Linked DNA regions of Homo sapiens. The protein of the gene in region 2 interacts with the protein of the main gene of each other region in a pairwise test. Each region holds a gene or a part of one and is shown on either strand. Other genes may lie near its edges.

Region 1 (4,247 bases), about 71 Mb from region 2:
CAATTACATGGAAATTAAACAACATGCTCCCGAATGACTTTTGTTTTGGTAAATAATAAAATTAAAGCAGAAATCAAGATGTTCTTCAAAACTAATAAGAACAAATATACAACATACCAGAATCCCTGGGACACAGCTAAGACAGTTTTAAGAGGGAAATTTATAGCATTAAATACCCACATCAAAAAGTTAGAAAGATCCGAAATTAACAACCTAACATTACAACTGAAGGAATTAGAGGAGCAAGAACAAATCAACCCCAAAGCTAGCAGAAGACCAGAAATAATCAAAATCAGAGCTGAACTGAAGGAAAATGAGAAAATGAGACACAAAAAACCACTCAAAAGATCAACAAATCCAGGATCTAATTTTTGAAAAAATTTATAAGCTATATATGCCACTAGCTACCAGCTAGACTAATAAATAAGAAAAGAGAGAAGGTCCAAATAAACAGGATTGGAAATAATGAAGGGAATGTTAATGCTGACCCCTCAGAAATAAAAATAACCATCAGAAACTACTATGAACACCTCTAAAGACACAAACTAGAAAACCTAGAAGAGATGGATAAATTCCTGGACCCATACATCTCCCAAGACTGAATCAGGAAGAAATTGATTCCCTGAACAGACCAATAACAAGTTCCTAAACTGAATTAGTAATAAAGAGCCTACAAACAACAAACAAACAAACAAAGCCCAGGATCTTATGGATTCACAGCCAAATTCTACCAGATGTACAAAGAAGAGCTTGTACCATTCCTACTGAAACTATTCCAAAAATTTGAGGAGGGAGGGATCCTCTCCAACTCATTCTATGAGGCCAGTATCAATCTGATATGAAAACCTGACAGAGACCCAACAAAAAAAGAAAACTTCAGGCCAATATCCTTTATGAACATTGATGCAAAAATTCTCAACAAAATACTGGCAAACCGAATCCAGCAGCTCACCAAAAAGCAAATCCACCATGATCAAGTAAGCATCATCTCCAGGACGCAAGATTGATTCAACATACACAAATCAATAAAAGTGATTCATCACATAAACAGGACTAAAGACAAAAACCACATGATTATCTCAGGAGATGGAGAAAAGGTTTTCAATATAATTCAACACCACAATAACGTAGGTATTGAAGGAAAATACCTCAAAATAATGAGAGCCATCTATGACAAACCCATAGCCAACATTATACTGAATGGGCAAAAGCTGGAAGCATTCTCTTTGAAAACTGGCACAAGACAAGGATGCTGTCTCTCACCACTCCTATTCAACTTAATATTGGAAGTCCTGGCCAGAGCAATCAGGCAAGAGAAATAAATAAAGGGCATCCAAATAGGAAGAGAGGGAGTCAAACTATCCCTCTTTGATTATGACATAATTCTATATCTAGAAAACCCCATAGTCTCAGCCCAAAAGCTCCCTCAGCTGATGAATAGCTTCAGCAAAGTTTCAGCATACAAAATCAATGTACAAAAATCACTAGCCTTCCTCTACACCAATGACAGCTAAGTCCAGAGCTGAATCGAATAGGCAATACCATTCACAATTGCCACAAAAAGAATAAAATACCTAGGAATACAGCTAACCAGGGAGGTGAAACATTCCTACAATGAGAATTACAAAACACTGCTCAAAGAAATTGTGTCAGAGAAGACACAAACTAATGGAAAACATCCCATGCTCATCGATAGGAAGAATCAATATCACTAAAATGGTTATATTGCCCAAAGCAATTTATAGATTCATTGCTATTCCTATCAAACTAGCAACAACATTTTTCACACCACTAGAAAAAAACTATTTTAAAATTCATATGGAATAAAAAAGAGCCTGAACAGCCAAGGCAATCTTAAGCAAAAAGAACAAAACTGGAGGCATCATGTTACCTGATTTCAAACTACACTACAGGGATGCAGTAACCCAAAGAGCATGGTACTGGTATAAAAACAGGCCTAGACCAACAGAACACAACAGAGAGCCCAGAAATAAGGCTGCACATCCACCACCATCTAATCTTCAACAAAGCTGACAAAAACAAGCAATGGGGAAAAGATTCCCTATTAAATCAATGGTGCTGGGATAACTGGCTAACCATATGCAGATTGAAGCTGGATCCCTTCCTTACACCATGTATAAAAATCAACTCAAGATTAAGATTAAAGACTTAAATGTAAAACTGAAAACTATAAAAACCCTAGAAGACAGCCTAGGCAATACATCCTGGACATAGGCAAAGATTTTATAACAAAGATGCCTAAAACAATTGCAACAAAAGCAAAAATTGACAAGTGGAATCTAATTAAACTTAAGAGCTTGTGCACAGCAAAAGGAACTATCAACAGAGTAAACAGACAACCTACAGAATAGAAGAAAATATTTGCAAATTATGCGTCCAACACCGGTCTAATATCCAGCATTTAAAAGGAATGTAAACAAATTTACAAGAGAAAAACAAACAATGCATTAAAAAGTGGGCAAAGGACATGAACAGATGCATTTCAAAAGAAGATAGACATGTGGCCAACAAGCAAGTGAAAAAAAGCTCAGTATCACTGATCATTAAAGAAACACACACACAAAAAAACCCACCATGAGATATCATCTCATACCAGTTAGAATGGCTATTATTAAAAAGTAAAAAAAAAAAAAACCAGATGCTTGCGAGGTTGAGGAGAAAAGGGAACACTTATACATTGTTGATGGGAGTGTAAATTAGTTCAACCACTGTGGAAAGCAATATGGTGATTCCTCAAAGAGCTAAAAGCAGAACTACCATTCAACCCAGCAATCCCATTACTGGATATACACTCAGAGGAATATAAATCATTCCACCAGAAAGACACACATGCACTTGAATGTTTGTAGCAGCACTATTCACAATAGCAAAGACATGGAATCAACCTAAATGCCCATCAATAACAGATTGGATTAAAAATTGTGGTACAGGGCCGGGCATGGTGGCTCACACCTGTAATCCCAGCACCTTGGGAGGCCGCGGTGGGCAGATCACTTCGGGTCAGGAGTTCGAGACCAGCCTGTGCAACATGGTGAAACCCCATCTCTACTAAAAATACAAAAATTAGCTGGGCATGGTGACAGAGGGAGACTCTGTCTCAAAACAAACAAACAAACAAAAACTGTGGTACATATACACCATGGAATACTACACAGCCATAAAAAAGAATGAGATCATGTCTTTTGCGGGAACATGGGTGGAGCTGTAGGCTATTATCCTTAGCAAACTAACACAGGAATAGAAACCCAAATACTACATGTTCTCACTTATAATGGGAGGTAAATGATGAGAACTCATGAACACAAAGAAGAGAACAAGAGACACTGGGGTCTACTTGAGAGTGGGGGTGGAGGTTGGGAGGAAGGAGAGGAACAGAAAGATAATATTGGGTACTAGGCTTAATACCTGGTGATGAAGTAATCTGTACAACAAACCCCCATGGCATGAGTTTACCTATGCAACAAACCTTCACATGTACCCCTGAACCCAAAATAAAAGTTAAAAAAGAAAAGAAAAGAAGACACTATGGGTCATACATTGACACACAAACTTTTTTTTTTGGACAGAGTCTTGCTCTGTCTCCCAGGCTGGAGTTCAATGTCTCAATCTTGGCTTACTGCAACCTCCGCCTCCCGGGTTCAAGCGATTCTCCTGCCTCGACCTCTCGAGTAGCTGGAATTACAGGCGCCTGCCACTGGGCCCAGCTAATTTTTGTATTTTTTAGTAGAGAGAGGGTTTCGCAATGTTGGCCAGGCTGGTCTCGAACTCCTGACCTCAGGTGATCCACCCGCCTCAGCCTCCCAAAGTGCTGGGATTACAGACGTGAGTCACCATGCCCGGGCCGACACATAAGCTTTTTATGGGAAGTAAAACTATGGCTAGTTTCCTAAGCAGAGTTGATTGTTTTAAAAGGGTAAAGGCCCCGCGCTGGCGGGCGCTCCTCCCTGAGCGGCGGGAAGCAGGCGGCAGCGGCGGTGGCGTCGGCTGAGCAGAGGACCCAGCGGGCAGACTCGCGGGTCGGACAGGATCGTCGTGACAAAGGCTTCGACAGCTTGCTGGAATAGAGGATCTCTGCTGCCTCGCCTCTTCTGTGGCCTTCGTGTGGGATGCACGAGACGGCAGGACCCAGATAACCGTTCTCTCAAAGACACAATGTTTGCACGAGGACTGAAGGGGAAACGTGTTGGCCACCAGGAAGACGTGGAGGGAGCCCTGGCCGGCTTGAA
Region 2 (4,247 bases):
CAACATGGTGAAACCCTGTCTCTACTAAAAATACAAAAATTAGCCAGGCATGGTGGTGCATGCCTGTAAATCCCAGCTACTCGGGAGGCTGAGGCAGGAGAATCACTTGACCCCAGGAGGTGGAGGTTGCTGTGAGCCGAGACCACGCCACTGTACTCCAGCCTGGGTAACAGAGTGAGACTTTGTCCCCTCCCCCCTCCCCCCCCCCAAAAAAAGCCAACATTAGGGGAAGTTGGGTGAAGGGTAGACAAAAATGCCCCATATTACCTTTGCAACTTTTCTATAAATCTAAAATTATTCCAAAATTAAACAAAAATTTATTTAAAGGGTCGTGGCTAGGACCATCTCTGGACAGATTAAAAACAAAATGGCTTTCTAATTTTGTTGCTATTATTACAAAAAATAACAGTCTCGAAACTAACTCCTTATACTCATTAACTGTTTTCTTAGGATAAACTTCTAGAATTGAAATTATGGTGTTTTCTAAAGCCTCTGGGCAGTCTAGAAAGAAAAGCAGAAAGAACAGGAAGGAAAAAAGCCGCCAAAGTTCCTGGCTTTGAGCAGGGGTACGAGGTAGGTGGGGGTGGAAAGTAGTTCCTTGTGACTGATGCAGTTGAAGTTGGGGTAAGGCAGCAGTAATAGGTCTGAAAAGATTAACAGAGGCTGACTCTAAGAAGTCCGGGCTTTATAGTGTTGAAAGTTAAAGAGCTTAGCTTTGGCTTGATCCTGCCAGCATAGGGAAGGGGCAAAGATTTCAGATCAGTGCATTTGACATGTTATTGATTTGTTATTTTACTTGTTGGTTTCCTACTTGACTGACTCCTCCCTGCTGCCTAATAAGGTGTAAGCTCCAAGAGGGCAGGAACTGAGCCTGTCTTAGGCACCGTTTCCCCCCAAAGCCTGGAAGAACACCTGGTCTGTAGAGAGAACGCAATGATATGGCCAAATGACTATCTGAGTCTTGTTTCCAAAATGACTCCCCCACCCACCAACTTTTTAGTGTGATAAAATGCACATAACATAAAGTTGACTATCTTAACCATTTTTCCATGAACAGTTCAGTGGCATTAAGTACATTCATACTGCTGTGCAACCATCACCATCATGCATTCACAGAACGCTTTCATTTTACAAAACTGAAACCCCTTACCCATTAAACCCTAACTCCCCATTCCTCTTCCCCCAGCCCCTGGCAACCAACATTCTACTTTCCATTTCTATGATGTCTAGATTCCTCATACAAGTAGAATCATATAGTATCTGTCTTTTTGTGACTGGCTTATTTCACTTAGCATGATGTCCTCAAGGTTCGTCCATGTTGCAGCATGGTGTCAGAATTTCCTTCCACATGGAGGCTGAATAATATTCCACTGTATGGATAGACCACATTTTGTTTATTCATTCATCCTTTGATGGATACTTGGGTTGTTTTCATATTTTAGCTATTATGAGTAATGCTCATATAAACATGGGTGTACAAATATCTCTTCAAAAACCTGTTTTCAATTCTTTTGAGCATTGATATAGTTTGGATATTGGTCCTCTCCAAATCTCATGTTGAAATTTGATCCCCAGGCTGGATGCGGTGGCCATGCCTGTAATCCCAGCAATTTGGGAGGCCGAGGCATGTGGATCACTCGAGGCCAGGAGTTCAAGACCAGCTTGGCCAACATGGTGAAACCCCATCTCTACTAAAAATACAAAAATTAGCTGGACATGGTGGCACATGCCTGTAATCCCAGCTACTTGGGAAGCTGAGGCATGAGAATCGCATGAACCCAGGAGGCAGAGTTTGCAGTGAGCCAAGATTGTGCCACTGCACTCCAGTCTGGGCAACAGAGTAAGACTGTCTCAAAAAAAGAAGAGAAATTTGATCCCCAATGTTGGAGGTGGGGCCTAGTGGGTGTTTGGTTGTTGGGAGTGGATCCCTCTTGAATGGCTTGGTGCCCAAAGATCTGGTTGTTAAAGAGTCTGCTCCCCACTCCTTCTCTCCTCTTCTCTCTCACCACATGACGCCTGCTGTCCTTCTGCCCGAGGCCCTCACTAGAAGCAGATGCTGATGCATCTGAGATGCCATGGGCTAAATAAACCTCTTTCTCTCTTTTTTTGAGATGGAGTCTTGCTCTGTCGCTAGGCTGGAGTGCAGTGGCTCCATCTCGGCTCACTGCAACCTCCGCCTCCCGGGTTCAAGCCATTCTTCTGCCTCAGCCTCCTGAGTAGCTGGGACTACAGGTGCCCGCCACCATGCCTGGCTAATTTTTGTATTTTTAGTAAAGACTGGGTTTCACCATGTTGGCCAGGATGGTCTCGATCTCGTGATCTGCCTGCCTCGGTTTCCCAAAGTGCTGGGATTACCGGCGTGAGCCACTGCGCCCGGCCAATAAATCTCTTTTCTTTATAAATTACCCAATCTCAGGTATTTCTTTACAGCAACACAAATGGACTAAGACAAGTATGCACCCAGAAGTGAAACTGCTGGATCCTATGGTTATTCGATTTTAATTTTTTGAGAAAAATGACTTTTGTTTTTTTGAGATGAGTCTCACTCTGTTGCCCAGGCTGGAGTTCAGTGGCACGATCTCGGCTCACTGCAACCTCTGCTTTCCAGGTTCAAGCGATTCCTGTGGTCAGCCTCCTGAGTAGCTGGGATTACAGGCACCTGCCACCATACCGGGTAATTTTTCTATTTTTAGTAGAGATGGGGTTTCACCATGTTGGCCAGGCTAGTCGTGAACTCCTGACCTCAAGCAATCCACCTGCTTTGGCCTCCCAAAGTGCTGGGATTACAGGTATGAGCCACCATGCCCAGCCCCCAAAATGACTTTTAAGAAGAAACTATATAAAATACTTTTTCCACCTCTGCCTTCAGCATCTGCCCTGAGTGCAGCGTTTCTACACTCAGTATTGGCCTGTGTTAACGAAGCTCTTTTACACCTTGAGGCCTTTGCACAGGCAGTTGCCTCCACCAGGAAGACCTTTGGCGGTGGCGGCTGCACCTGCCCTCCCCGCTCCCCATTTCAGCTCAGACTGCACTCTTTCTGAAAATCCTTCCTGACTCTCCAAGTTTGGGTTAAGCCTCCTCCTTCACGGGCTGTGCTTCCTCATCTTTATTCACATGTTGTTAAGGTACAATCCCTGCTGCCTCCCGTGGGGGATCAGCTCCATCGGGGTGGGGGGCGGGGGCTGACTCTCCCTCGTTCCTGGGCTCAGCGCCTGGCATACCATATGTATCAGGAGATTTGTTTAAAGTGATGGCGCCGGTGTTTAGCTACAGGCAATTTCCCCCAAAAGAAGAGAATTTGCATCTGTCACTGTTTGAAAACAATAATTACCCACAGGCAGTTCCAGTACCTAACTGCTTCTCTCCAAATTGCAGGCAGTTTTAAGGAAGCTGTATGTGAGGCCTCTTATGGTAACTTAAGAAAGTTTGAGTGTTTGTTTTGTTTTTTAAAATCATGTTCTTGCTGGGTGTGGTGGCTCACGCCTGTAATCCTAGCACTTTGAGAGGCTGAGGCAGGTGGATCACTTGAGGTCAGGAGTTCAAGACCAGCTTGGCCAACATGGTGAAACCCTATCTCTATTAAAAATACAAAAATTGGCCGGGCGTGGTGGCATGCACCTGTAATCCCAGCTACTCAGGAGGCTGAGGCAAGAGAATTGCTTGAATCCAGGAGGCAGAGGTTGCAGTGAGCCAAGATTGCACCACTGCACTCCAGCCTGGGCAACAGAGTGACACTCTGTCTCAAAAGAAATAAATAAAATAAAATAAAGTCATTTTCCCTCACCAAATATCAACAAATCATGCCCCACACCCTAACCAGCACAGGCCCAACCTGTGGGTTCCAGGAAAAGGTAGGATAAGGTAAGGCAAGTAAATTCCACCTGCTTCTCTACACCCCTCCCTAGACCACATGTGAGGAGAAAAACATGGAAAAGACATAAAATTGCCCAAGATTTAGAGCCACCTAATTTTACCTGTTGAGGAAATAGCAAAACCTCCTGGAGACATCCAGAACTGCACATCATGTGAGTCCACGATCTTAAAAAAAAGAACTTGCTCCCTGTGGTGAGTTCTCATTCTGCCAGGTTCTGCCAGGATTTGGTGACCCTGGGCTTATCATCTCAAAGGCCTCTCAGGCCAGGGGATGGGCCTGGGAAGCTTCCATTGGTAAAGCTCTGGGGACATTAAAAAAAGAAGAAGGCTAGGTGTGGTGGTTCATGCCTAGGCCGAGGCAGGCGGATCACGA
Region 3 (4,048 bases), on a different chromosome or scaffold from region 2:
TAAAATCACAACCAGCCTCATTCCAGCCCCTGCTACGGTCTGAGTGCTTGTGTTCCTCCAAAACTCAAAGGCGAAAATAACCCCCAGGGTGATGCTGTGAAGGGTGGGGCCTCTGGGAAGTGCCGTGGTCCTGAGGGTGCAGCCTCCTGGTGGGATCCAGGCCCCAAGAGCTCCCGCCCTCCCTCCGCCACGTGAGGATGTAGGAGAGGTCACCCTCAGCAGCCCAGAAGGGCCCTATCAGAACCCAGCCCTGGCGGCACCCTGATCTGGGACTTCCAGCCTCCAGGGCAAAGAGCAGTTTCTTCTGTGGTAGAAGCCGCCTGTGGTGCTTGGTTACAGCAGCTGAGCTGATAAGGACCCCTCACCGACAAGGGCTCCCTCCCCCAGCGCTTCCCACCTCAGGGGCTTCACCTCTGGCCTCATCACACTCTGTCCATGCTCCTAGCCAGACAGTTGCACCTGCAGGCAGAGACCTGTCCTGTCCATGGAGGTGTCCACAGAGGTGTCCCCGGGCCCAGGCCAGGGCCCGCACGGACACCATGAATGCGTATTGATCGAGTGAACAAATCTGTGATGTGCACGGCTGTTTCCAACTCCCAGGCACTGCACTGCTCTGGCAGAGTGACTGCCAGACCAGGATCCAGCTGTGTTCGGAGGCACCCCCCACTTCCTAGCTGCCTGGGGATGAGGGTGGGGGCGCCCCAAGGATGGTGGTGCTCAGCGTGCCCCTCAACACAACGCAGTGTCCTGGTGTCAGTGGACAGGGTCTAATGCGAGGTGGCAGCAATGGTGGTCAGGGAGCAGCCTTGCAGTGCCTGATGCCCCCATCTTCTGGCCAGAACTGCCCCTCCCATCCCCACATGTGTCCCCCAAGATTGGGAACTGGGTCTCATCCATTGCCCTTGTCCACCACCACCCCTCAGCCTCCCCACACACACTCTGTCCAAGCCAGGGCAGCAGGGCCCAGCCTCGAACCTGAGAACCCCCAGGAGAGCTGTCCCCCGTGACCTACCAGGGAGTCCTCCCTGCCCTCACACCTGGAGGGCAGACTGAGCCGAGAGAGGGGAAGGGCAGGCCAAGGGGGCAGCAGCCTGGGAGGGAAGTCCCTGCCCCACCCAGTACACACCTGTGAGAGGCCAGCTGGCAGTGGCAGCCCCATGTGGGCACCTTTGCTGAGGCTGCCAGCTCAGCCCCACCCAGCTGGGCCTGGACACGCCCTTCAGCATCTAGTGCAGGCCACATTCCCCTGAGCTCTGGAGGCTTGAAGGTCAATGGGCCAACCCTCCGCCTGCACCCCAGGCTGGCTTTGTGGTGCCATGGAATTCGGGGTGAGGCCTGGCTGGGGATACAGGGATGGATGGCCCTCGGGCCCTGTGCAAATTCAGCCCAGCCTCTGCCTGCCTCAGCAGATGGCATGTGGCATCTGCCGGCTGAGTGGCCCTGTGATGGGGCAGATCTGAGGGGGAAAGGTTCCCATGGCATCCTCTAGGCCCAAGCCATGAGCCTTCCCCACTCCCTGCCGCCCCTCAGCCCCAGCTCCTCCAGACCCCTAGCTGGGTCTCTTCACCCCCAGGGCCCGGTGTAGAAGAAGCTCCCACCTCTGCCATGGTGCCCCCGCCCCTCCTCTGAGGGCTGAGCCTCAGCCATATGGCACTGAAATGAATGCTGCTGGGGAGATCTTTGGATTGGAACAGATGGGCGGACGCTGGTGCAGTGCAGAGAGGCAGGGGCTGGGGGTGTGGGGCTGGGAAGGATGAGGCCTGGGCTCTCCCTGATCAGCTGAGTAGCACAGGTATAATCACTGGGACTTGAGGAGCTGCCTGGGCTCTGGCGTCCTCTGGCCACACGCTCGGGGGCCCAAGAGGGGTCTCCAGGAAGATGCTACTGCAGGGTTATGGAAATTGGCTCTCAGGGAGATGAGGCTGGAGGGTGTCGGCCTCCCGGCCTGGCACAGCAGCATAGCACCCCCTGTCCCACCCCACCCCTCCCCGCACTGGTCAGCAGCCTGGGCACGGGGCACAGGGCTCTGCCTCACTCCATCCTCTCCCTCCTGCCTGAGAGGAGCAAAGCCTGGGGTGGGGGACGAGCAGAGGCACAGACTCAGGCCGGCCCAAAGTCCTTGGCAAGGATCAACCCCTCTGAGCTGTCCTCATATCTGTAAAATGGGCAGATACTTGGCACCGACCCTGCCTGGTTGTTTATCCTCCTCTCAGTCGACAAATCTGCCTCGGACATCCCTGGGCCCCACACTGGGCTGGACACCAGACAGCAGGGGAACCGGGGTTTCAGCCCCCATCAGAGGGGAGATGAAACAGGGAGAGGAGACGGTAGGTGAACAGTCGTGGAGAAACTGCCTAAGGACCGGGCGCGGTGGCTCACACCTGTAATCCCAGCACTTTGGGAGGCCGAGGCAGGCAGATCACGAGGTCAGGAGATCAAGACTATCCTGGCTAACACAGTGAAACCTTGACTCTACTAAAAATACAAAAAATTAGCAAGGCATGGTGGCACATGCCTGTAATCCCAGCTACTCAGGAGGCTGAGGCAAGAGAATCACTTGAACCCTGGGAGGTGGAGGTTGCAGTGAGCCGAGATAGGGCCACTGCACTCCAACCTGGGCAACAGAGCAAGACTCTGTCTCAAAAATAAAATAATAAAATAAAATAAAATAATAAAATAAAAAGAAGAAAGAAAGAAAGAAAAAGAAAGAAAGAAAGAAAGAAAGAAAGAAAGAAAGAAAGAAAGAAAGAAAGAAAGAAAGAAAGAAAGAAAAAAGGGAAAGAAAGAAAAAGCAAGCAAGCAACGGCGTAAGGAATGGCTGACCCCACAAGAGGCTTGGGCCCCTCTGCTGCTGTCCATGGTGCTGAGATCTTGAATGCTGGCCAGAGGCGAGAGCCAGCAGGCAGGCAGGGGCAGGTGGTCATGGGCAGGGGTGAGCCCTTGAACTGGGTTTATCACCTAAAAGGTGACTCTGACCTACTCACTTCAGCTACGTCAGCATCAACTTTTTGCTCCAGGGAAACAGTGTGCATGCACCATGCTTTCTGGCCTCATCAATGAAGGGTCAGGGCTAGTCCATAGCCAGGTTTAGGTTCAGCCTGTGACCAAGGTCAGGGCTCAAAATGTAACTAGAATTAGGGTCAGTGTGTGACCAGGATCAGAGCTTAGTTTGTGACCAGGATCAGCGTTCAGGGTGTGGCCAGGATCAGCGTTCAGGGTGTGAGCAGGATCAGGGCTCAGTGTGTGAGCAGGATCAGGGCTCAGTGTGTGGCCAGGATCAGGGCTCAGTGTGTGACCAGGATCAGGGCTCAGAGTGTGAACAGGATCAGGGCTCAGAGTATGAGCAGGATCAGGGCTCAGTGTGTGACCAGGATCAGGGCTCAGAGTATGAGCAGGATCAGGGCTCAGTGTGTGGCCAGGATCAGGGCCCAGTATGTGACCAGGATCAGGGCTCAGAGTGTGAGCAGGATCAGGGTTCAGAGAGTGGCCAGGTCAGGGCTCAGTGTGTGACCAGGATCAGGGCTCCGTGTGACCAGGATCAGGCTCAGTGTGTGGCCAGGGTCAGGCCTCAGTGTGACCAGGATCAGGACTCAGAGTGTGACCAGAGTCAGGGCTTAACGTGTGACCAAGATCTGGGTTCAGTGTGACCGGGATCAGGCTCAGGGTGTGGCCAGGGTCAGGGCTCAGGGTGTGGCCAGGGTCAGGGCTCAGCGTGTGACCAGGTCATATCCAGTGTCCACCCTGGAGAGCTGCCTGTTGAGGCACCACGAGGGCCAGACCACTTTGTGGGCTCCCTGGAGCTTCACTGTGTGGGTTTCTAGGCCTTCTTGGAGCACAGACCACTCAGAGCCTGGTCTGGTTGGGAACAGTGCCCATCCCTCAGCTCACTGCCAATGTCCCTCAGACATGTCCCCCTCTCATCCCACTCACCACTCTGCCAAATAGCATGGGCCACCCCTCGATGAAGAGCCTCAGCTGCCAGGGAGCTGTGAGCCCAGCCCAAGCAGGCATCTGCCCCTGTTGACTGCCTGAGGCCAGACCCACAGGC
Region 4 (4,245 bases), on a different chromosome or scaffold from region 2:
TCCTGTCTGGAGACAGTGACAGACACCCACTGGAGTCAGATGTTATTCCAACCACCAGCAGCCAGGCCTGCCCATAAAAGGCTAGTGGTGGCCCCATGTCAGGGGAAGGGCAGGTGGAGCCTAGGCCTGGACTTCCCCAGTCTTCAGCAACTGCTGCTCTGTGTGACCCTGAGTGGCCCCTACCCCTCTGGACTTCTGCTGCCTGGCCACATGGGAAAATTCTGCATAAATAGAATGGCCTTTTTCACCCCTATGTATGAGAAGCCCATGGGTTGGACCCCAAGGGCAGAGGTCGGTCAACTGCCTCCATCTGGTGTCAGAGTCCTCAGCTTCCATGGCGGGGCCTTTGGCCATGGCTCTGCCCCTCACTGCTCCTAAGACCCCATGTCATGCGCTTTCCTCATCAGCCTGGATCACTCTCCTCCCTGTACAGTGATGATCCAGGTCCAGGTCAGGAGCCAGGTTTGACTCTTCTGTGTCCCCAGCACTGGGCACAGACCATCACAGGTCTATTGAAAATCATGAATGCAGCCTTGTGAACTCAGCACCCAGAGAGCTGGCAGCGTCCCTCCCGAGTCCTGTGCCTGCCTCCGGGATGGGCCCAGGTGACTGCAGCTGCCCCTCAGCCTCTTGGCTCCCATTTCTCCCTCTATCTCATCCTAATTCAGGCTGGCAGAAGAGTCAGGGAGGGGACTTTGGCCTGGCCTGAGCCATCTGTCACTGACTGCTGCATCACCCTCCACATAAATGCCCCAGGAATAGCGCATCCTGAGGGGTCATCTCAGGAGGCCATTTTCTAGGCCTGGCTCTGAGAAGGCAATCAGCTTTATTCACAAATCTCTGCAGGCTGCTTTTCCAGCAGGCTCTCCTGGCTCAGAAACCTCTGGTGTCTCGAGACCTTAGTGTTCAGGCCTAGGTTTCAGAGCCTTAGTCTGTTCGATGCCATCTGGAAGTGCCTCTGTGCATCTTCCCTCCCCCAGGTGCTATTTGGGCCTTTGTCTTCTGGTCAGAGATGCTTCTTTTAGGTGCCCGTAGTGGGAAATGGTAGAAGAGGAAGCTGCAAAGAAGCTGGCACTGTTATGGTCAGCAGGCAGAAGGCCCTGCTGTGATCTTCTAGGGCCCTGGGACCTCCCAGCACAGCTGGGCATAGAAGGGGCCACCAGAACAGCCCGAGGTCCCCCTTGGCTTCTTAAATATACTCTGATTCCCAAGAGGAGCCCAGACTCCAGCTCTCTTTCCGGCACCCTCTAGCCCATTGGCCTTAGCTCTGTGTACCCCTGACCCAGCCCTGCAGCCCCCAGCCCCGAGCTCGAGCCTCGGGGCCTCATGCCGGGCCTGGCAGCAGCCTCAGCTTCATCACAACGTGTGAAATGAGGGTAGCCCATTGCCTTGAGCTTGATGTCTGCTGGGCTGGGGGTTCCATTTCTGAAGCCACCTCTACTTACTCCCTTGAGCTGGATCCCCTGCCAGGCTTGGGGAAGTCTTCTCACCACTGGGGCTCCTCCCTGGCCAGACAGAGTCCCTCCTGCTGCCACAGTGTCCCCCAGTGACCCTCTCTGCCTCCTCATGGCTACTCTGGGTGTGGCCTCACACCCTGACCCATGCACTTCAGCCATTTCGTGCCAGAAAGGGTGGCTGAAGTAACCCCATATCCCATTACTCCTTCACAGCCACTGCCATCCCTGGCAGAAAGGGTGGGAGACAGGCAGGTCTGGGTGGGGAGAGCAGTGTATCTGCAGAGGGACGGTGGCACCAGACCACCTCTGCCGAGACAGTACCCATGTGGATGGGGTGAAAGGAGCCAAGCCTAGGCTGGGGGGCAGGACACCTACGAGATTGTCTGGTTCCTGCCCCTGATGGGCCATGAGGATGTGGCCATGGGCCTCAGCTTCCCTCTCTGACCACAGCCTCTGTGGTCCCCAAATGAGCTCAGAGTCCAACATGCCTGGACCCCGGCCACGGCTTGAGCTCCAGGGCCCGCCAGCCCAAGCTGCCCAGGATGTCTTCATTTCTCTCCTTTCTTCTTCTTGGCCTCATTCTTCTCATCCTCCTCTACTTTGATGGCCACTGTGTCCACACTGTCCTTCTTCTTCTTCTTCTTCTTCTTCTTATCCTCTGTGGGGCAGGGGGAAGAGACCATGTGATAGTGGTGAGACAAGGTCCTGGGGTCTGACTGTCCTGAGGGGAAGAGCCCCAGAACCTCCTACACTCTGCCTTTTTCTTCCTTCTTCCTACTGGAGAATAGGCTCATCGTTCTATTTGCCTCATGCCAACCAATTTCTGTGCTCTGGTCTCCAGGGGCAGGGCTGGGGCCCCTCCCTGAACCTGCTTTGGTTGGAGCAGAGGAACAGGGTGACTCCAGGCAGCAGGACTGAGGAACTGGCTGGCGCAGCAGGGCTCAAGCCAGGGCCAACTCACCTCCTGGGACTTCTGTGAGCTCATTGAGGGGTGGCACAGTCTCCAGCTTGTCTGTGTACATCTTGGCTGCCTTTCGCTGCAGGTACCGGGCTTCGATCTCCTTCCGGGTCCGTGGCACACGACAGTTGAAGACACAGCACAGCGTGATGACTGTAGGGAGGACAGAGCAGGCTTGGCTGGGGCTGGGGTTCAGAGACCCAAGGAATGGCATCCGCCTTCCTTCAGGCCCGCCCCCATCCACCCACATGTGTCTCACCCACCAGACCCTGGCAGGAGGCTCAGCATCTTGACAAAACCCCTGTGGACCCTATGATGACCAAGGTGGCTTTCCTAAGCAGGGCTGACTTCATGCAGCTGCACAGGCCCCCGTGCTTGGAAGGGACCCTGGCTAAATTATGTCACCAGTCCTGGTCCTGAGGGTCTTTCTGACTAGACTGAGAGTCACTGGAGGGTAAGGCAGAGGTCTGCACCATGACTTAAGCCATAGCTTCCTGGGGGCCATCCAGCACTTCCAACCCAGGCCTCCGGGTGTGCAACTTAGCTTCTCCTTCCCACACCACTGAGAGCTAGGCCAAAGTTGCCTCAGTCATGAGAGGACGTGGCTCTGCATGTCCTCCTCAGCCTCCCTGAGGACATCCCTGGGCTCTCCCTGGCTAGGGCGGGAGCCCATGAGAGGGCACAGACCCTGCCCTGAGGCATTCACCTCAGACGGAGTTATTTCAGGAGTGGTTTTCCGGCTGAGGGCAGCTGCACCCACGCCAGTTGGGCCAGGTCATGGAGCTGGCCTGTCTAGGGATGGGTAGGGCAGGTTAGGGCTGCCAGGACCTGGCTGGACTGAGTTTATTTTCCTAAGGCCCCCACAGCCTGACCACCTTGGCCCCAGCCCTAGAGGAGGGGATGGAGCTGGTTCCTATTATAAATCAGATGACCAGACATAACTTCCTGGCAGACTCCTGGGGGCAGAAGGGCCCACGGAGGATTAACCAGGTCTATTTTGGGGAAGATGGATCAGATCTATGTAGCCTGGACTGGAGTACCTTCTGGGGTCATTTTATGCAACCAAGTCAGAACCCCTTCAGACAAATATTGTGGTCCTACTAGGTCTCACCCAGGCTCAGAATAAAAGAAAAAAATCAATGAATGAATGAATGGGATGATCTCAAAGCCTTTGCTGTTGGGAACAGGACTGGACTAGAGTGAATGAATTGGGGAGCCAATAGCATCCAGGCATACACTTGGAGGAGGGTGCTGCACAAGGGCCCCAGCTATAGATCCGACTGTCCAGGGGTGGACCTGAGCAGACAGCAGGCCTTATCCAAGAAGCTGGGTCCTGGATTTCTCCAGAACCTGTGTTCATGCCTGAGACTCGAAGTTGGTACCCAATCCTAACCCTCCCGGCTTAGGCCACCTCTTCTAGCCACCCCACCAGGAACCTCCTTGGGACTATGCCCACTCAGGCTCCATGCAGGCTGGTCCCAGGCCCCGGGAGGCTGGGGCTTCCTAAGGAGCTCAGTGGGCCACTGACGGCAGCCAGAGCCGGGCTCAAACACCACCCCTCACTTCAGGCCTGCCCCGCACAGCCTGGCCTGTTTGCTTCTCTTCAAAGAAGGGGAGATGCAAAGAGCTTTGGGTCAAGTTCCAGGGCCCAGGCAGGGGCTTGGGATATAAGTCCCTGGGGCTGGAGGAGACCTCCAGGGGCACCCCATCTAGCCCCAGCCCCTTTTCCTGCAGGGCTTTGGGGGTGATGCTCCAATAACAGCCCAGGCAGACTGGGAAGCAGGAAAAATGTTTCCCCCCAGGAGAGGGAGCTGTGTTGCCCCCACTGCC

What was found.
Region 1: the proteins of TMEM51 (region 2) and CLCA4 interact in a two-hybrid assay, tested with the Homo sapiens proteins (one large-scale study listed by BioGRID).
Region 3: the proteins of TMEM51 (region 2) and TSNARE1 interact in a two-hybrid assay, tested with the Homo sapiens proteins (one large-scale study listed by BioGRID).
Region 4: the proteins of TMEM51 (region 2) and TMIE interact in a two-hybrid assay, tested with the Homo sapiens proteins (one large-scale study listed by BioGRID).

Annotation. Positions count from the first base shown.
Region 1 is NC_000001.11:86,553,269-86,557,515, reverse strand, and holds part of CLCA4 (calcium-activated chloride channel regulator 4 precursor), read right to left. Parts: intron 1-4,247. UniProt on the Homo sapiens protein: May be involved in mediating calcium-activated chloride conductance.
Region 2 is NC_000001.11:15,159,789-15,164,035, reverse strand, and holds part of TMEM51 (transmembrane protein 51), read right to left. Parts: intron 1-4,247.
Region 3 is NC_000008.11:142,214,603-142,218,650, forward strand, and holds part of TSNARE1 (t-SNARE domain-containing protein 1), read right to left. Parts: intron 1-4,048.
Region 4 is NC_000003.12:46,707,449-46,711,693, reverse strand, and holds the end of TMIE (transmembrane inner ear expressed protein isoform 1 precursor), read right to left. Parts: intron 2,569-4,245; coding exon 2,419-2,568; intron 2,116-2,418; coding exon 2,006-2,115; 3' UTR 808-2,005; downstream 1-807. UniProt on the Homo sapiens protein: Auxiliary subunit of the mechanotransducer (MET) non-specific cation channel complex located at the tips of stereocilia of cochlear hair cells and that mediates sensory transduction in the auditory system.